Homo sapiens: one gene and its partners. The protein of the gene in region 1 purifies or fractionates together with the protein of each later gene. This does not show direct contact. Each region holds a gene or a part of one and is shown in the gene's direction. Other genes may lie near its edges.

Region 1 (5,560 bases):
ATTTCATTAGCCTTTAGTAGGAATATCAAGCTTTTCTGCCACATAAGCAATGTGATACGATATTGTATCTATATGGTTCCTTTCTGTTCATCATTATGTATTCTGTTGATTAATTAGTTCCATTTCTGTCCTTAATTAGTATTCTAAGGTATGAAATCTTTCTTTTCATAAAACTATTATTTTATCACTTTATTTTTAGCTGTTTTTTATTGAGTTTATTTCACATGGTCCATAGCCCCAGATACCTGTACAATTTTTTTTTTCAGTTTATTTTTCTTCTTGAATTGGTTGTGGTTTTTTTGTATATAACTTTTGCATGTTATGTCTTTTCTTCTAATCCCAATCTCACAGTATTTTGATTTTGTTAGTTCTCATCATTTTCATGTATGTATAGCTCTGTTTCCACCTTTTATTTGCTGCTTGAATCTGGTGTGGCTGGTGAGATGTCCAGCTGGGGTTGGTGTAGACTTGTCAATTGAGGAAAATGACGAGACGAGTCTCAATCATTTTAGGAGATTTATTTGCCAAAGTTAAGGATGTGGGCCTGGGAGACAGGTCTATGCCTTTCTCTGAAGATGATTTTAAGGACTGCAAATTTAAAGGGGAAAGGATGGGATATCGAGAAGCACCGTTTTCATGTAAGAGCTGGGTAGGGAAAATAGTGATTCATGGCCTTTGGCTCAGTGAATGTGCTTTTTTTTGCATAAGATGACATAAACAAAAGGGGCAGAGGAAAAATGCAAGGACTCTGCATTTTACATAACATACCTGGTGGCTCAGATGCTACTCTTTTAGCTGTGGTTTCAGCCAGTTGGTTACCCTGACTTTCTGTGGTGTCTAATTTTGAGTGACCTGGGATTTTTATAATTGCCAAACGTTTTGGTTTTAGAGTAGCTTCTAACAGCGCTGATACTTGCTGCCCATTTTCTATGGGTTGCCCTGAGTAGGTTAAATATCCTCTCTCTTTCCATAGCATCCCAAAGTTATGAGCAACCCCAAAAGCTTAGCGGCTGTCAGTGTAAATGTTTGCAGCCTTGTCTTTTGCCACTTGACAAGCTCGAGTCAGGGCAATCAATTTGGCTGCTTGAACCAATCTGGCATGGGGAAGAGGACTGGCTTCAGTTACCTCTAGTAAGGAAACCACAGCATATCCTGCTCTAAAATGTCCATTTTCTCATCTTCAATAAGACCCATCTGTATACCATTCTATCTCAGCATTATCCAGTGGCATCGCTTATAGGTCTGTCCTGGGGGTGAGAAGTTGGTCAGTCATCAGAACACAGTCATGAGGGGTCTTGTTGGAAGGGCCTGGCAAGAGAGTGGCTGGATTAAGATGATAGAGCAGGAAATAGTAATATTGGGAGAAGATAAAAGCAAAATTTCGTAAGAGGCTAAGCAGTTGACAGACAGATACTGGGTATGATGAGAATTTAGAAGGGTCTCAATAGGATGTGGCACAAAAATGGTAAGGGGGAACTCATAAGAACTCATAATTATTTCTTCAACAGACGTGTACAGAAGGGCCATGCTGTTATTACTCTTACACAAGGAGGCAGCCCTCGAGCCACAGGGTCCAGCTGTTGGCTATAATAGCCTACCGGTCTCTGATGATCACCATGTTTCTGGGTCAGTACCCTGGATGCAGTACCTCCAGTTTCGCATACAAAAAGGGAGAAAGGCAACTTGTAGATTGGGTGCTGTGAGTCTGGGGAATTAGTGAGAATTTCCTTTATTTGTTATATAACTGGTTTTCCCTCTGGAGTCCCCATGATGAGATCAGGTTGTTCATTTTTTAGGTATGCATATGGAGGGTGAGCCACAAAGGAGAAATTTGGTATCCAGTTTCTACAACAGCCTGCCAGTCCCCGAAATCCTCTAAGTTGTTTCTTAGTGATGGGCATTGGGAAAGCTAAAATTTCTCTCACATTATCAGGGTTAATACTCAGTCCTTTGACCAAGATAATATGCCCCAAATACTTAACTTCCGGTAAGCACAGCTGAAGTTTGTCTTCAGACGCTTTGCGTCCCTTGCTGGCTGAGTAAATGTAGACTATCTTCCTGGGAGGAAGATGCTGTGCCTGGACAAAGGAGAAGGTCATCCACATACTGAACGAGTGTTGAGCCCTGGGGAAAAATTAAATCCACTAAATCAGCTTTTAGTATTTGGGAAAAGTAAGTGGGACTTTCTGTATACCCTTGGGGCATGACAGCCCACATATATTGCCATTCTTTCCAAGTAAAAGCAAACAAATATGGCTGTCTGGATCTACAGGAATACTGAAAAAGGCACCGCAGAGATTCACAACTGAGAAATACTGGCTGGTAGTGAGTATAGCTGATAAAACGGCATGTGGGTTGGGGACTACTGGGTGCCTGGGTATTACAATATTGTTTATTGCCCTCAAGTCCTGCACAAATCTCCATTTTCTCCTGCTTTGTTTCTTTACAGGGAACATAGGGCTGTTGCAGGGGCTGGTGCAGGGAATAATGAGCCCCTTTTTAGATAGTCTTGTATAATAGGGGCAATTCCATTTGCGGCTTCCTGCTATAGAGTGTATTGTTTAAGGCTAGGCAGGGGTTTCTTTGGATTTATCTCTACCTTTATTGGAGTGGCTGAGAATATTTTCCCTATATCTGTATTGACTGAGACCGTAAGTGGGAGGAGACATCCTTGAGCAAGCGTTCCTCTTCTGGTGTTAACAGGAAGACTGGGGAAGCTAAAAGGAGTTTTACCGTTTCCTGCTCTTTATTCCAGTGTTTTCTCTTCTCCTCTATTATTTCCTTCTGTGTCTCTATTTCATATTCCCGGCCACAAGACGATGTTTCAACACTACTAGTACTAAATTGTGGTACGTTGTCAGGACATTTTGTAATTCGGTATTCTTGGTCTCCTGGCCCCAATTCTAAAAAAAGTTCACGTTTTGATGAAAAAAAGATATGGGCATTATGGATGTTGAGGAGATCACAGCTCAAAAGATTGACAGGGGCCCCAGGGCATATAAGAAACATATGGTACCTACGGAGCATGTCACACACAATTAGAGCTTGCGGCGGGGGAGCTGAACCCGATGGAATTGTAAGGTATAGGTTTGGACTTAAAACGTGAGATCATTTTATTAGACGCAGCCACCATGTTAATTCTTTCATTACTCTGAGGAATGGGCTTTCTAAATCAGGTGGGATTTATCAGAGATATAGTTGTGTCTGTGACAATTAAGGCAGTTGTAAGCTCATGATTTATTATTATATTAATGTCTCCCAATTTGTTTGTCATGGTGAAGTTTTAACAGCTCACTAGGAGTTAACTTGTGGGCAAAATATGGGGGAGGCATGTGGCTTTTCATCTTGTAGCCATCTTATTCAGGAACCAAAAAGGGGGAGGCAGGTTTGCATGACCCACTTACTAGCTTGACTTTTCCCTTTGGCTAAATGAGTTTCGGGGGTCCCACAATTTAATTTCCTTTCACAGACTCCTCAGTTTTCTTTAGTGGAGGTGAGGGGAGGTGGCTATGACAAGAGATGCTCTGATAGCGGATCTTCTGTATATAGATGGTCCTTGTTTCTTTTGAGTAGCATCATACATTAAGGGCCTTACCTTGTTTATCTGCCTCAACATGCCGAATTATAGCTGTACCTAGAGGAAGACCAGGTGCTAGCACTACATCCTGGTCTTTGATGTGTTTGGTATATGTCATGGTAGTGACTGGGGGCATGGAACTTGGTTCACCCTTCCTTGCTGATCTCATGACAGTTCATCAGCTGGTGGGTTGCCTCGGGAGGCTGTGGAAGCCCCGCTGCTGGTGGCTTCCACAGCTTCCAGGTTTTTAAGCCAGAAGGCTGTACCCCATCAGCGTTGCACCCATCTCCATAGTTGTAGTTTCCACACACTTATACAACTCAAATGTTCACTTTACTGTGCAGTCCATTCCCTCTGTTTTGTGATTTTTAGGAAATCTTCATAATTTACGGTCTACAAAACTATTATTTTGTTTTCAAGGAAGTCATGTTATATATTTCTGACTGTCTTTTCTCTTATTTCTAGAATTCAAGCCAGGAAGAAGCAGCAATCTGTCTTCTGGATTAAAACTGAAGATCAACCTACTTTCAACTTACTAAGAAAGGTATTAAGCGCCTTTCTGAGAGCTCTCAGTGGGCTTCCTAAGCACGTTCACTCTGCCTCCTTTAAGTCTTATATTTATGATCAAGATGAAAGGGAGGGATGTATCACTGCACAGAGATTCTACAAGTGGATATATAAAGCTAATAATGTTTTCAGTGAGCTCTTCTCTGGCAACTACTTTCCAAGTGCTTTCAGCATTCCACCTTGAAGCACAACGTTAATAATGCACAATTTCTTATGTTCAGCCACAGAATGTTCACGTGTGATTTGGTTACAACATATTGCTCTATCCAGGCCTCTAACAAAACTGACTTCTTTCAAATGGACTTGCAGTTGCTGAATTCCAAATCAACACTTTATCTTAAAAACAGAAAAGGAGGGGAAGGGTGGAGGGAGGGGAACAGAGAGGGTACAAGAGGCAAAAAAAGAAAAAGAGGAAAACAAATGCTTGTAAACAAGTTAAACCAAATAAAAGAGATATAAAGTAATTTCTTAAAAGAAGGAATGATATTCTAAGCAAGAATCAAATATCCAGGTATGTATAAACCGCCTTCGTCCTTTTAGATCGGCTTCTCTCTCTTCTTTACATACTCAGTACAAATTCTAGGTGAGGGGGCAGAGAGGGGTTGGCATTGTCTGACTAAATACATCTTGTTCTCTCTCTGAGTGGTAGAACTTTAGAGCTTGACCAAATGTTACGAAAGGGTGCTGGTGGAAGTTAGGATGAGAAGAAATGCAATCTAATAGATTTGGAGAAATGATGTTGTAGACACCAAGAACAGAGAAAGTTGGAAACTGGCAATATGGGGAGGATAGCTGGGTCAGAAAGGAAAAATAGGAGAATATAGAAGAAATGTTATGAGAAGGGAAAATAAGAGATGCTCCACTTATCACCATTCATCTCGGGGCAGGTCCCTTTGTACAAGGTCATCCTCAGGCCATACCACATACAAAAGAGTTATACCTGAGGTCTGTACAGCACTGTTACAATCATAGTCTCAAAAGGTTAAGGCTCTATGATGGCAGGTTTAAAAAACCTTTTCTAAAATATTTAACAAAATAAGGGGCATTTATTTTTTTTTGGTTCACATTACCTGAAAGTTAAAAGATAGCTTTCGGCTTCATTCAGGTCTTTCCTCATTCTACCTTCTGTTGTTTTTCATCTCTTGGTAAACTTGGTGAACTCTTTGTTAGTGTTGTTCTTCAGTAGGTTCTCACCAATAGCTTTGAATGAATACCCCACCAGCTTCTACTCACCAATAGCTTTGAATGAATACCCCACCAGCTTCTACCTTGTAGCAGAATGTACACGCTTAGGTTTCAGCAAAAGTTCCTCAGTAAAGTCTCAGATCTACTTAGATCATATGTTATCCATGAGCCAAGCACTGGTCCTAGAGCATATGTGTTCAAATTGGTCCCACCTAGTCCATGTGACTATCC
Region 2 (4,889 bases), on another chromosome or scaffold:
CAACTTAAAGCCTTTATACATGCGTTTTCCTCCTCCTGGAAATTCCAGGAGTTCAGCCCACAGAGAGGAAAGTTACAAACTGCTGAACTGGTTGACAGAGTGATGTTAAATTCTTGGCCAGCAGTTAATGTATAGAATGATTTTGTTGAATGTCTTTTGTCTTTTATCAGAGTAACCAGAGAGCACAGAGAAATGCTGGTGAAACTGGCCAAACAGAACACCAACAAGGCCAAAGACTCTTTACGGAAGGTTCGCACCAACTCAATGAACAAGCTGAAGAAATCCAAGGATACAGTCTCAGAGGACACCATTAGGCTAATAGAGAAACAGGTACTATTGCCAGCAATGTAGTAGTGTCTGTGTATTCAGCATAAGGAATCATTTGTTCATGTTTGAGGTGAGGACAGTTAAAACAGAATACCTCTGATCTTTCATTCACATTATCACCATTGTCTGAGTCTCTGTTCTGGGCCTAGCCTAATGCCAGATTCAGAGGGATCCATAGAGGAGGATAAGACACTTGTATTGTGTACCAGGTTTTGTGCTGAACACTTTATATTACTTCATTTACCCTCATCACTACAAAACTATGAGGTAGGTAGTAAGGAAACTGAGATTCAGGCAAGTTAAATAACTTGCCCGAAATCACACTGCTGGAAATTGGTAGAAATCGGATCCATACTTAGGCAGACGGATTTCAGAGCCTCTACGCTAATGCTCTCCTGTCTGGTTTTCCGGTTGCTGAGAATTGAGCACTTAGTGTTCTCAGTGTGCTGAGTAGTGGCACTTGAATAAGTCTTAAGCTGCTGGAGTAAAATAGTGAGAGACAAGGGGGAAAAGTGTAACCATATGTACAAAGGTAAGGTGATATAAAAACAATATTCAGTTAAGATCATTGGGGTTTGAACGTAGGATAAGACTAGGGAATGAATAAAGAAAACAGAGTGGCTAGATAATAGAAGGAAGGTCTCGTACACCAGGTTTAGGAGTTTGAACGTTAACATGTACAGACTGTCCCACATTGGCTGTGCATCTATATTAGTCATGTATGGCCACAATAATGGTACATAACTACCCCAAAACTCAGTGATCGACAATATCAAAGCATTATTTCTTGTTCTCATTTCCATGGGCCAGCTGGGGTGTAGCTATTCTAGGCTGGGCTCAGTGGGCTTGGCTCCAGATCTTGGATTGGGTTCAAATCTGCTTTATATCTCTCAATCTTCCAAAGCCAACAGGTTTCCTAGGGCCTCTTTTCATGGTAACAGCAGATGCCAAGATCATAAGCCCAACCACTCAAGTACATTTTAAACACCTGCTCTTGTCACATTTGATTGGCCAAAGCAAGTCACATGGGCCAAGCTCAATATGTTTGGTACAAGGAAATATATATATTTATGGAGGTCTGGGGAAAGAAGTGAATATTTGCTGAACAGCATCTCTCTACCAAAGTACCTTAATCACTTGGGTAGCTTATAAAAATCCAGGTATCTGGGGCCCCATTTCCAGAGATTGAGTCAATGAATCTGGGACAGAGCCAGGAATCTGTATTTTAAATCCTTCTCAGGTGATTCTCATACAGTGACACACTTAAAAGATTTTTTTTAGATGATGGAGAGAGCACATCTATGTTTATGAAAGATGACTATGGTGGCCAGGTAGAAAACAGATTGTAGGGGGCAAGACTGGAGGCAGGGCGATAGGGATGCTGCTGCAGAAATCCAGCCAGGAAGTGATGGTGGCCTGAACCTGAGTGGCACCTGTGGAAAGATGTGGAGATAGAATTAGTAATGTTCAATGTAATATAAAGGGTTTGATAGGCCTTAAAGCCTCCTCATCCACAATAAAGCATTGTTTTAGGGAGATTGAACAGGCATGTGGGCTGGATAGGGAGTGAAGAGAGAAGCGAGAAGCAAGGGACCCCTGGAGAAGTCCATAAGTTGACTAGCTGCTCCCCTTCTCCTCCACCAGCAGTTAAAATGCTAGTTTTACTAGCATTTTACTAGTAGGACAGCCACAACAGTCACCTGGGGGGGGGAATTTTAGGTGGCTTCCTGGGCCCTACTCCTGCATTTTCTGATACAGTAGCTCTGCCTAGGAATGTATATTTTTATTTTACTTACTTTTATTAATTCATTTTTCTTGAGATGGGGTCTCACTATGTTGCCCAGGCTGGTCTTGGGCTCCTGGGCTCAAGCAGTCCTCCTGTAGCTGGGATAACAGATGCGTCCAGCTGGAATGTATAGTTTTAAAAAGCTCTCAGGTAATTGTGTAAAAGCACACATAGAAGATAATGACCTAGAAGCCTGGTAATGTACCTGTGTAATGACACTAGAGTTAGAAAAAGATTGTTCTGCACTTGATGTCCTATGACCTTGGGGAAGTTGCTTGACTCTTTGGAGTCTGTTTTCTGTAAAAAGGGATTGGTAATTTCTGCCTTGAATGGTTTCCTTGGTATGCTAGAAAGCACCATTAGTGTACCTAACACCCAAACCCTCAAAACTCCCCTCTTGCCATCTCTCTGCCCTCCTCCTTCCCTGTATCAGCTAAAAGAAGAGGTTCAGAGATTAGGCGGGCCTTTCCTGTGCACTGACCAGGCCTCATTAATAGTCTGGGCCCTGGCTCCAGCTGGGCCGGCTCCTTGTCTTTCTCCTAGGGGATTTCTTCACTGCTTTCCCTTGTCATTGCTTCTTGGTGGTAAGCCTATGGACCTTCAGGGCCTGCCAGGCACTAGTCACTCAGCAAGCCAGGACATCTGCCTCAGGGACCAGAGCCCACAACTCCTGAAAGAGGAAGAATGATCAGATAGCAAGCATTCTTGATAAAACCCTCTTGACAAAGACCTTGCTGGAAGCCTTCACTCATTAGCACTGGCTTTTCGCCATCCTCTTCAGATTAAATTTTTTTTCTTTAGTGCTTCTTACTGTGATTTTTTTAAGTGAAAATAGCTGTATTCGTTTTGCTGTTAAAACAAGGAAGAAAGTAATTGAAATCTCATCACTCAGATGACTGTTGTTAACATTTTAGTGTAGAACTTCAAGTTATCTCTCGAAACAAGAAAAAGTATCATACAATTTATATGATACGATATATCACAGATATCTTTCTAAACATATTATTATTTAAATGTTTATTTTTATTTATTTTTTATTTTTGTCACCCAGGCTGGAGTGCAGTGGTGCAATCTTGGCTCACTGCAACCTCTACCTCCTGGGTTCAAGCGATTCTCCTGCCTCAGACTCCCGAGTAGCTGGGATTACAGGCACGTGCCACCATGCCCTGCTAATTTTTTTATTTTTAGTAGAGATGAGGTTTCACCATGTTTGCCAGGCTGGTCTTGAACTCCTGACCTCAGATGATCCGCCCACCTCAGCCCCCCAAAGTGCTGGGATTACAGGCATGAGTGCCCAGCTAAATGTTTATTCTTAACCAGGATTGTTAATAACTTAATTTACTGTCATAGAGTTAAAAGTTTGGAACAGTAGAGAGCCTTATATATACTTCATGGTGTTCTTTCTACTGTCAGAAGGCCCCAGACTGGAATTTTTGGTGTGTGTGTGTGTGTACGTGTGCGTGCATGTTTTAAAGATATAAAACAAGGTTATGGCTGATTGTCGCTTCATCAGACAGTTTTAAAATTTTGTTTACTTTTGTTCCTTATTATCAAAGTAATATATGTTCATTGGAGAAAGTTCATCCTCCCCTCCCACATTGGAGAGGCAACCGCTCTTAACATTTTGGAATATTTCTTTTTTCCTTTTTTCTAAAAAAAAAAAAAACTACATAGTTTTAAACATGATTGAGAACATATAGTATATATACAATTTTGTATTCAGCTTTTTATTTTCTGTTTGACCTCAAAGGTATTAGCATTTTTCATGTCTTGAAAAACTCTTTGTAAAACTCTTTCTGATGGCTGCTAAATAGTTGGTGGTGTGCTGTTCACTTTCATAAGCCCTCTTTTTGGACATTTTAGTTTGTTGAAACTTCTTTGTTATAAGGTTGCAGTGAATATATATATATATATATATAAATCTTTGTTGAGATGATTTCCTTAGAATAGACTGGAACGTCCCAAGTGTGGAATTACTGTACAGAGGGATTGCATATTTTTTGTAAGATTCTTGGTACATACTACTGTGTTTTTAGAATATATATGTATTTAATTTGCCTTTTATAACCCCTAACACTTGAACCTAGAATTTTTTATCTGAGCTGAAAATGTTGCTTATCTGGGAACTGTTGCTTTTACTTTCACACTCTACAGAAAAGATTGTTATTCTTTGTATAAATCCATACGACCTTTCTAAAGGATAATATATACTAAAATCCATACATTTCTGATTTAGTGACTTAGGAATTTGCCCAAAATAAATAATCAAGAGCCTTATTTATAGGAATGTTCATTGATATATATAATAGTAGAAAACTGGAAACTGTCTATAAATTTCTGACTGTGGGAAGTAAATTGTTTTACATTCATTAGAATCTACATAGAAAGTTATAAAAATATTTTATAGACATGGTAAATTTTTTTGGAATTTGCTTTTAAAAGGTAGATTATACAGCAGTTTGATTTTAGTTTTATAAAGAAAAGTCACATGCACATGGGGTTGGCAGCTTATACATGTCAAAATATTAAAGGTGGTCATTTCAGATGATGGGATTATAAACAATTTGGATTTTATTTTGAGTGAGATTATCTTTTTTAATTTTCAAAAATCTTTTGAGGTCAGATTTTTTAAAGCTTTATTATAAAAATGCTTCTTCAATTTTTGGTGTATAAGAATGAAATGATAGGCTGGGCGCAGTGGCTCACGCTTATAATCCCAGCACTTTGGGAGGTCCAGGCAGGTAGTTCACAAAGTCAGGAGATCGAGACCGTCCTG
Region 3 (4,889 bases), on another chromosome or scaffold:
CTCAGCCTCCCGACTAGCTGGGATTACAGGCATGGGCCACTACGCCTGGCAAATTTTGTATTTTTAGTAGAGACAGGGTTTCTCCATGTTGGTCAGGCTGGTCTTGAACTCTGACCTCAGGTGATCCGCCCGCCTCGGCCTCCCAAAGTGCTGGGATTACAACGTGAGCCACTTTGCCTGGCTGAGAATTCTTTTTTTGTTGTTGTCTTTTTGAGATGGAGTTTTGCTGTGTCCCCAGCCTGGAGTGCAATGGTGTAATCTCAGCTCACTGCAACCTCTCCCTCCCGGGTTCAAGCAATTCTCCTGCCTCAGCCTCCCAAGTAGCTGGAATTACAGGCGCCCAGCACCACGCCCGGCTAATTTTTGTATTTTTAGTAGAGACGGGATTTCATCATGTTGGCCAGGCTGGTCTTGATCTCCTGACCTTGTGATCTGCCCGCCTCGGCCTCCCAAAGTGCTGGGATTACAGGCGTGAGCCACTGCCCCCAGCCGAGAATTTCTCTTTGCGTCCTTCCTACTTTGGGGACTTCGAATGGTGGGAAAGAGTTATCAAGGCCAAAATAAGGAATTCAAATGAAAACAAAACAAAATCAAAGAAGAAAAAACAGAAGAGCACTGGGCAGGCTAGGCACGTGGCTCATGCCTATAATCCCAGTGATTTAGAAGGCCGAAGTAGAAGGATCGCTTGGAGGCCAGGAGTTGGACACCAGCCTGGGCAACATAGCAAGACCCCATATCTACAAAAAATAAAAAACCTAACCAAGCGTGCTGGCATACTAGTAGTCCCAGCTACTCAGGAGGCTGAGGTGGGAGGATCACCTGAGCCTGGGAGGTCCAGGCTGTAGTGAGCCGTGATGACACCACTGCACTCCAGCCTGGGTGACAGAGAAAGACCCTGTCTCTAAAAAATAAAAACTGGCCAAGTAGCTTTGGGATTAGCCTTGGGTTCCAGTCCCAGCAAGGCCTTTAATAGCTTGGGACATGACTTCTGCATTTACTTTGCAATCAGGTGAGACCTCCTCTGATGGGGAAAATGACACGGTGAGTGACAAAGGATGTTCTCCTATCATTGTGTCAGGGCAAGGAAGCCTCTGGGTAAATGATCAAATGATCAGCTTTGCTTCTGATTTGGAGGGTGGGTGAGCAGATGCTGACCTTCCCAGGTGAGGGAAGTCCCCGAACATTCCCAGCAGCTTCTGGAAACCCCAGGGAAACCTCTTTGAAGGTCTTTTCTGCATCTCTGCCTGATAGGTCTTTTTTTTTTTTTTTTTTTTTTTCTTTTTTTTGACACACAGTCTTGCTCTGTCGCCCAGGCTGGATCACTGCAACCTCCATCTCCCGGGTTCAAGCAGTTCTCCTGCCTCATCCTCTCCAGTAGCTGGGATTACAGGCACCTGGCACCACGCCTGGCTAATTTTTGTATTTTTAGTAGAGACAGGGTTTCGCCAAGTTGGCCAGGCTGGTCTCGAACTCTAGACCTCTGGTGATCCACCCGCCTCAGCCTCCCGAAGTGCTGGGATTACAGGCTTGAGCCACCACGCGCGGCTCTGCCTGATAGCTGAGAGCATAGAACTCCAGGTTTGAGACCTGGCTCTGCCACATTTCTCCCTCTATGACTGTGGGTGCCCCACTTTGCCTTAGTTTTTACCTCTGTGAAATGGAGCAGATGGCTGGCACAGGTAGCAAAGGAGTAAAAGTTATGTGGGAGGGTGGTACCTGAGAGAGACTCTAGCTTGGTCTTGCCCCACCCCTGGTGTAAACATAAAGAAGCCTCCCTGGATGGCTCAATCTTCTCCAAAAAGGTTAGAGGTGTAATTCCTAGAGGAGGCGACCACTAGCTGGGCTTTGAAGGATGTGTAGGAGTTCATAAGGACAGGCATTCTGGGCAGGAGGAACAGCCTGGGCAAAAGTTGGGAGCAGGGAGAAATCTTGATGGAGGCAGGAGGAGGAGGAGGTAGGTTGGTGTAGGCCAGGTGCAGTGGCTCACACCTGTAATCCCAGTGCTTTGGGAGGCCAAAGCAAGAGGATTGTTTGAGCCCAGGAGTTCGAGACCAGCCTGGGCAACATAGCGAGACCCTGTCTCTAAGAAAAAATAAAAAAATTAGGGTACAGTGGCATATGCTTGTATTCTCAACTACTCTGGAGGCTCAAGTGGGAGGATCACTTGAACCCAGGAATTTTTTTGTTTTTGTTTTTGTTTTTTTGAGATGGAGTCTCACTCTGTGGCCCAGGCTGGAGTGCAGTGGTGCCATCTTGGCTCACTGCAGCCTCCTCCACCTCCTGGGTTCAACCGATTCTGCTGCCTGAGCCTCCCGAGTTGCTGGGATTAAGGTGCCCACCATCATGCCCAGCTAATTTTTTTGTATTTTTAGTAGAGATAGGGTTTACCATGTTAGCCAGGCTGGTCTTGAACGCCTGACCGCAAGAGATCCTCCTGCCTCAGTTTCCCAAAGTGCTGGGATTATAGGTGTGAGCCACTGAGCCTGGTCAAGCCCAGGAATTTGAGGTTACAGTCAGCTATGATTGCACCACTGCATTCCAGCCCAGGTGACAGAGAGAGACACTGCCCCTAAAAAAAAAAAAAAAATTGATTGATGGGAGGAAGGGTGAGGTTGGCAGAGCCTTGAATGCCAGGTGGAGGAGCTGGGACTTTCCTTCTTGGGGTGATAGGGAGTCATGGAGGGTTTCTGAGCAGGCCAGGGATTAGATAGCTGAAGGCTGGATTTACTGGAAGCCAATGAGCAGTTGGCTATGGTCCTTGTCCACGCGGCCCATGTTGTGGGCAGTGACCGTATTCAAGAAGGGAAGGACAGACAAGTATTTGAATACTTCAGTGACCAGGATTTGGTAAAGGACTGCAGGTCAGGGTCAAGAAGAGGTGAGAGCAGGACAGACTTCCTCCCCGCTGCACCAGGCAGCTGAGCTGGGTTTCCTCTAGGGGCTGAGGTTTGAGGGTACCTCAAGTTCTGCAAGAGTCTATAGGAGGTGGTAAGAGAGAAGAGCTGGAGGTCAGAGTTTTCTTGACTATATATATATATATTTTTTTGTTTTTGTTTTTAACAGCTTAACAGCTTTCTGTTTTATTTTTAGAGACAGGGTCTCAGGGTCTCACTTTGTCACCCAGGCTGGAGTGCAGTGGTACAATCGTAGCTGACTGCAGCCTCAAACTCCCAGGCTCAAGAAATCCTCCTCCCACCCTTAGCCTCCTGAGTAGCAGGGACTACAGGTGTGAGCCAGCAGGAAGCCCAGCTGGTTTTTTTTTTTTCTTTGGTGTTTTTTGTTTGTTTGTTTGAGACCGGAGTTTCGCTCTTATTGCCCAGGCTGAAGTGCAATGGCAGGATCTTAGCTCACCACAACCTCCGACCCCCAGGATCAAGCTATTCTCTTGCCTCAGCCACCTGAGTAGCTGGGATTACAGGCATGCGACACCACACAAGGCTAATTTTGTATTTTTAGTAAAGACAGGGTTTCTCCATGTTGGTCAGGCTGGTCTCGAACTCCCAACCTCAGATGATCCACCTGCCTCGGCCTCCCAAAGTGCTGAGATTACAGGCATGAGCCACCGTGCCCGGCCTTTTTTTTTTTTTTTTTTTTTTTGAGACAGAGTCTCACTCTGTCGCCCAGGCAGGAGTGCAGTGGTTCGATCTGGGCTCACTGCAAGCTCCGCCTCCCGGGTTCACTCCATCCTCCTGCCTTAGCCTCCTGAGTAGCTGGGACTACAGGCGCCCACCACCACGCCTGGCTAATTTTTTGTATTTTTAGTAGAGACGGGGTTTCACCGTGTTAGCCAGGATGGTCTTGATCTCCTGACCTCGTGATCCGCCCGCCTTGGCCTCCCAAAGTGCTGGGATTACAGGCGTGAGCCACCATGTCTGGCCTGGCCAGGCTGGTCTTGAACTCCTGACTTCCGGTGATCCATCTGTTCTGGCCTCCCAAAGTGCTGGGATTACAGGCATAAGCCACCACGCCATGCCGAAGCCCAGCTTGTTTTTAATTTTTTTTTTTTTTTTTGGAGAAATGAGGTCTTGCAATGTTGCCCAAGCTAGCCTTGAACTCCTGGCCTCAAATGACCCCGCCTTGGCATCCCAAAGTACTGGGATTACAGATGTGAGCCACCATGCCCCAGCCTTGCTTTCTTGAGATACGATTTAGAATACCATAAGATTCATCCCTTTTAAGCACATAATTCAATGACTTCTGTACAAACAACCATGACTACAATCTAATTTTAAAATATTTCAATCACTCTAAAAAAGAAACCTCCTGCTTATGTACAGCGACTCTGTCTACCTCTTAAGTGAATTCTCCTACCTTTAATAGCCCTATTTTACAGTTCAGGAAACTGAGGTTCAGAGAGACAAAGTCACTTACCCACAGCAAAGAAGCAAGGCTGGGTATCAAATGCAGGACCCCCCCGGTCCTGATGCTTTTTTTTTTTTTTTTTTTTTCCTCTGAGAGAGACTCTCACTCTGTCACTCAGTCTAGAGTACAGTGGCGCGATCTCAGTTCACTGCAATCTCTGCCTCCTGGGCTGAAGTAATCCTTTCCTCACAAGTAAACCTCAGCCTCTCAAGTAGCTGGGACTACAGGCACACAACACCACGCCTGGCTAATTTTTGTATTTTTAGGTAGAGACGGGGTTTCACTATATTGGCCAGGCTGGTCTTGAACTCCTGACCTCAGGTGATCCGCCTGCCTCGGCCCCCCAAAGTGTTGGGATTACAGGCGTGAGCCACCACACGCAGCCTTTTTGTTATTAGACTCTGTCATTACTGACTTTTTTTTTTTTTTAATAGAAACAGGGTCTTTCTTTCCCAGGCTAAAGTACAGTGGCATGATCACAGTTCACTATAGCCTTAAACTCCTGGGCTCAAGTGATCCTCCTGCCT
Region 4 (4,889 bases), on another chromosome or scaffold:
TCAACGTCTGTTTTTGCTTTGGTTTTGTTTTAGTGGCAGCTGAAATATCCTAAACTAATTCTCCGAGAAGCCAGCAGTGTATCTGAGGAGCTCCATAAAGAGGTTCAAGAAGCCTTTCTCACACTGCACAAGCATGGCTGCTTATTTCGGGACCTGGTTAGGATCCAAGGCAAAGATCTGCTCACTCCGGTATCTCGCATCCTCATTGGTAATCCAGGCTGCACCTACAAGTACCTGAACACCAGGCTCTTTACGGTCCCCTGGCCAGTGAAAGGGTCTAATATAAAACACACCGAGGCTGAAATAGCCGCTGCTTGTGAGACCTTCCTCAAGCTCAATGACTACCTGCAGATAGAAACCATCCAGGCTTTGGAAGAACTTGCTGCCAAAGAGAAGGCTAATGAGGATGCTGTGCCATTGTGTATGTCTGCAGATTTCCCCAGGGTTGGGATGGGTTCATCCTACAACGGACAAGATGAAGTGGACATTAAGAGCAGAGCAGCATACAACGTAACTTTGCTGAATTTCATGGATCCTCAGAAAATGCCATACCTGAAAGAGGAACCTTATTTTGGCATGGGGAAAATGGCAGTGAGCTGGCATCATGATGAAAATCTGGTGGACAGGTCAGCGGTGGCAGTGTACAGTTATAGCTGTGAAGGTACAGTCTGCTCTTGGAAAAAGCAGCCCTGTATGTAATAATATGACCCGAGTTGTTTAGGCTCTGGAGATACACACGCATATACATGAACATGTTTGCATGTGTGCTTGCGTGTGTACATGCACATGCGTGTGTGTGTATCATGTGTCCTTTTTAGTCTTGTCACACCTGTATGTCTGCAGAATATGCCTCTTTCTCATCTGGCCATGCTAGCTGGCTCATTGTTATACTGTACTCAGAATATTTTCGCACGTAAGCACTGCTGTCATTTGTCTCTCTTGTGCCCAGGAGAGCAGCCTCTTGGTTTCATACAGCCGACTGTCTTCTCTACAGCTCAGAGGAGATTGTACAGTTGCTATAATTAACTTGCTGATAAAGAGCTGGGAAAACAAAAATCTGTCAAATCTTTCCAGGTTCCCACAGGTGCACATTTCCAGACCTGCCAAAATATTTTATTATGGTTGACATCACTATCTTGATGGGTGTGATTTGTCAAATATGGACTTGTTCTTGGCTTCCTATAGTTTGTAACTACTGTCCTTCCTTGCCAGAAGCAGTTGAGGTAGGTTTTGTAAGCAGACAGTCCTCTATTTTCAGGAAACTCCCTAGCTCTTTACCCAATTCTGCAGTTTTAGACCTTGTTGGGTGGCTGTGGTAGACTTGTTCTTGCATTTTCTGATGTATAATCCCCTTGAAACAGATCGTAGGCTACCTCTTAGTAGCCCACCCACATTTCTCTTCTTCTATTATTGTTTCTGTGTGTTTATGGCCCTCATTTTTCCTTAGAATAGAATTACAAAAATGGTAGTTGAACAGATGGAGGAGAGCATGACCTCTGTTGACTTTCTTTTGTGTCTGATTATTTGGCAAAGGGATACAAGACATAGTATTAGCTCTCCTGTCTGATTTACTGAAAGATGTTTGGAAAACCAGAATTCTGGATATCCCATCAGGGAATGACTGGAACTTTCCAGGGTCATTATTTTCTGACAACTCTAGTTATTTGATTGGATTTTTGTTTGTTGTTGTTATTTGTTTACTAAAATTACTGTTTTGGAAAAGAGATTTAAGAAAAAAAAGATCTTTAAAGTACTCTTTAAATTTCTTACAATTTCCCAGTCTCAAAAATTTCCTCAGAACTACTAATATTTTTTCTAACTTTATCTTATGTCTTCAGTCTGAAACAAGGAACTAGTTTAGCATTTGGAAATTTCACCACTTTCTCTGGCATCTCAAATAATGATGCTGACCTAAGAAAATCGCTTGAAGGGATTTAACGCTGTCCTAATGGAAAGAACGGAGATCCTCTGATCTTTAATAAGGACTTGCCAGGGATTTAAGAACTATCACATCCAAGAACTCTGATGTGAACGAACAATGGAGTTAGTTTCTTTCTTAAGGAGACAACTCTCCAAACCTGAAGCAGTGGTATGTGATAGTACAAAGCTCTACAAAGATGTCTTTGTGCTCCCAATTACTCTGAGCCCTCCAGTTTAATAGTCCTATTGTACTCCCTTCCCGTGGGTGATCAAGTAGTTTTTGAAACCTAGAATATCTTTCAGAAAGGAATTTAAATGTCTAATGAATAGTTTCTATGCTCAGGAGTAATTAAGACTGACAAAGTATACAAATATAAATTACATATAAATATAGAAATGTTGGTACTTAAAGAGGGAACTGTAGAATTTGAATCTGTAAGAGCGGTGTGCAAACTCCTTTGTTCTCTTTTTTTTCTTTTTTTCTTTTGAGACGGGGTCTCGCTCTGTCGCCCAGGCTGGAGTGCAGTGGTGCGATCTCCACTCACTGCAAGCTCCGCCTCCCAGGTTCACGCCATTCTTCTGCCTCAGCCTCCCAAGTAGCTGGGGCTACAGGCGCCCGCCACCACGCCCGGCTAATTTTTTGTATTTTTAGTAGAGACGGGGTTTCACCGTGGTCTCAATCTTCTGATCTCATGATCCGCCCACCTCGGCCTCCCAAAGTGCTGGGATTACAGGCTTGAGCCACCATGCCCGGCCTCCTTTGTTCTCTTAACTGCAGAAATTCTCAGAACTCCATCTAATAATAATAGCAATACTGGGAATGCTCATTTATTGAGCACCTACTACGTGCTACATGCTGTTATAAGCATTTTACATGCATTAACTCATTTTGTCTTCCCAACAATTCAAAGAACAAAATAGTAATGAAGTACTATTGCTATCCTCATTTTACAGATGAGGAAACTGAGTCACAGAAGGTTGATTAACTTGTTCATGGTGATGCAGCAAGTAATTAGCAGAGTTAGGATTTGAGGACAAATATCCAGGCTTCAGAATCTTAACACCTAAGGCTATGTGCATTATGAGCAGGTATTTCTTATCCCAGCAGTGTAGCCGTCTCAGGGATTTTATTTTATTATTTTACTTTTTTAATTTTTTGAGACAGAGTGTTGCTCTATCTCCCAGGCCGGAGTGCAGTGGCACGATCTCGGCTCACTGCAACCTCCGCCTCCTGGGTTCAAGTGATTCTCCTGCCTCAGCTTCCCGAGTAGCTGGGATTACAGGCATGCACCACTACTCCCAGCTAATTTTTTATAATTTTAGTAGAGACGGGGTTTCACCATGCTAGCCAGGCTGGTCTCAAACTCCTGACCTCGTGATCTGCATGCCTTGGTCTCCCAAAGTGCTGAGATTACAGGTGTGAGCCACTGCGCCTGGCCAGGGACTTGGATTTTTAAAATGTCCACCTTCTGGAAAGGTTAAGGGGACATTCCACTTGCTTTTTCTTTCAGGTCCTGGTGTCTTCCTTTCTCCAGCTTTACTTCTCACCCACATCTGCTGTAGCTTTCCAGCACATACTCTCAGATGATTGGAATGCATCAGATTATCTTATTCGATGAAACAGAACCTTTCTGTAGGTGTCTGGCTGTGTGTCAGACGGCATACAAAGCATGTGGCTCTGGGTCAGATGGTGTACAAAGCATGTGCCTTGAAACTCTATGGTGGGCGCATGTCTTCTAAGTGACAAGTGATATCTGTTTAGTTTTCTGGTCTTATAATCCTTGGCAGAATGCCAGAACTATGGCAAAGGTGGACTTGAAGAGAATCATTTGGTTTAAAATTTTGGTTGAGGTTGAGAAGGGCTTAAGGAGGTCATAGAGAGTGGACACTTCAGAGAATTGTATTTTTTTCTGTGTCCTTGAACTTGTTTGTCAATGAGCTGTTCTAGACAGTATGGGAACTCCAAAGATAAATCAATGGCTTTCTCACTTTGAGGTAATAGGGAGGTAATAGGTGGGCTCTCGTGATTATAATTATGAAATGATGAAACATTGGGTTTGAAAGAGACTTTTGAAATCACTTGATTCTAGCCTTTCATTTTACAAATGAAAACACCGAGAAGGGAAGTGGCTTGGCCAAGGTCACATTGCTACTTAGTGATAAGAGCAGGGATTTAAGTTGGAAAGTGTTCCTTGCCACTGGAGAGGTTCACGTAAAATGCACTGGGAATTCAGATACAGAAGTGATTGCTTCCTGCTGAAATTAAATTCAGTTGAAGCTTAAGATCTTTCAAGACTCTGCTCTCAATACCTTTTCCCAGGGAAATCTTCTTGTAGATTTATAATGAGCCAGTCATCCCTCTTTGGTTTATTTTCATGAGTAGAGGTCATTGAGAAGTAATTTGTATAGGATACGTGTAATTATATACTAAATTCATTGGCTTTCACATGCCGTTCTAGTTAATAGATATCTCCAGTAGGAAGATTGAAATGGTACAATTTTTAATCAGGAATGGCTTCGGGGAACCATATGTAAATAGGCAGAATATTTGATTTTCCTATTCCAGCTTTGCTGGCAATTGCTTGTTACTCCTAGCTATAAAAAACGAACTTTAGCGGGGAAGGCATTAAAAACCCAATGTTTAATATGGTCCAGCACCTTGTTCTTTGACTGGAACACCTTCAGAAACATCACTTAGATCAACAGTAACTATTGGCTACCATTTTTGTTTCTTTGTCTGGAAGGAAACATTTTCTGTGAAATTGTCTTTCTAGAAAGAAAAGCAATTCTTAAGATTTTAAACTAGTGCCAAGTATTGCATATTCTTGACATTATTTTCCAGACCTCCCACAAGGAGCCAGGAAGGCAGCTGGGCGCGGAGGCTCACAACTGTAATCCCAGCACTTTGGGAGACCAAGGCAGGTGGATCACAAGGTCAGGAGTTCAAGACCAGCCTGGCCAACATGGTG

Evidence for each region.
Region 2: the proteins of NAT1 (region 1) and MRRF purify together in Homo sapiens (affinity purification with mass spectrometry; one large-scale study listed by BioGRID and IntAct). This does not show direct contact.
Region 3: the proteins of NAT1 (region 1) and ICAM1 purify together in Homo sapiens (affinity purification with mass spectrometry; 3 studies listed by BioGRID and IntAct, with this or other methods). This does not show direct contact.
Region 4: the proteins of NAT1 (region 1) and FTO purify together in Homo sapiens (affinity purification with mass spectrometry; one large-scale study listed by BioGRID and IntAct). This does not show direct contact.

Annotation. Positions count from the first base shown.
Region 1 is NC_000008.11:18,215,369-18,220,928, forward strand, and holds part of NAT1 (arylamine N-acetyltransferase 1), read left to right. Parts: intron 1-1,508; exon of another isoform or gene 1,509-1,525; coding exon of another isoform or gene 1,526-1,626; intron 1,627-1,673; exon of another isoform or gene 1,674-2,325; intron 2,326-4,042; coding exon of another isoform or gene 4,043-4,121; intron 4,122-4,135; exon of another isoform or gene 4,136-4,655; intron 4,656-5,560. UniProt on the Homo sapiens protein: Participates in the detoxification of a plethora of hydrazine and arylamine drugs. Catalyzes the N- or O-acetylation of various arylamine and heterocyclic amine substrates and is able to bioactivate several known carcinogens.
Region 2 is NC_000009.12:122,313,057-122,317,945, forward strand, and holds part of MRRF (ribosome-recycling factor, mitochondrial isoform 1 precursor), read left to right. Parts: intron 1-170; coding exon 171-330; intron 331-4,889. UniProt on the Homo sapiens protein: Responsible for the disassembly of ribosomes from messenger RNA at the termination of mitochondrial protein biosynthesis. Acts in collaboration with GFM2. Promotes mitochondrial ribosome recycling by dissolution of intersubunit contacts.
Region 3 is NC_000019.10:10,277,295-10,282,183, forward strand, and holds part of ICAM1 (intercellular adhesion molecule 1 precursor), read left to right. Parts: intron 1-4,889. UniProt on the Homo sapiens protein: ICAM proteins are ligands for the leukocyte adhesion protein LFA-1 (integrin alpha-L/beta-2).
Region 4 is NC_000016.10:53,825,831-53,830,719, forward strand, and holds part of FTO (alpha-ketoglutarate-dependent dioxygenase FTO), read left to right. Parts: intron 1-33; coding exon 34-661; coding exon of another isoform or gene 662-691; intron 692-4,889.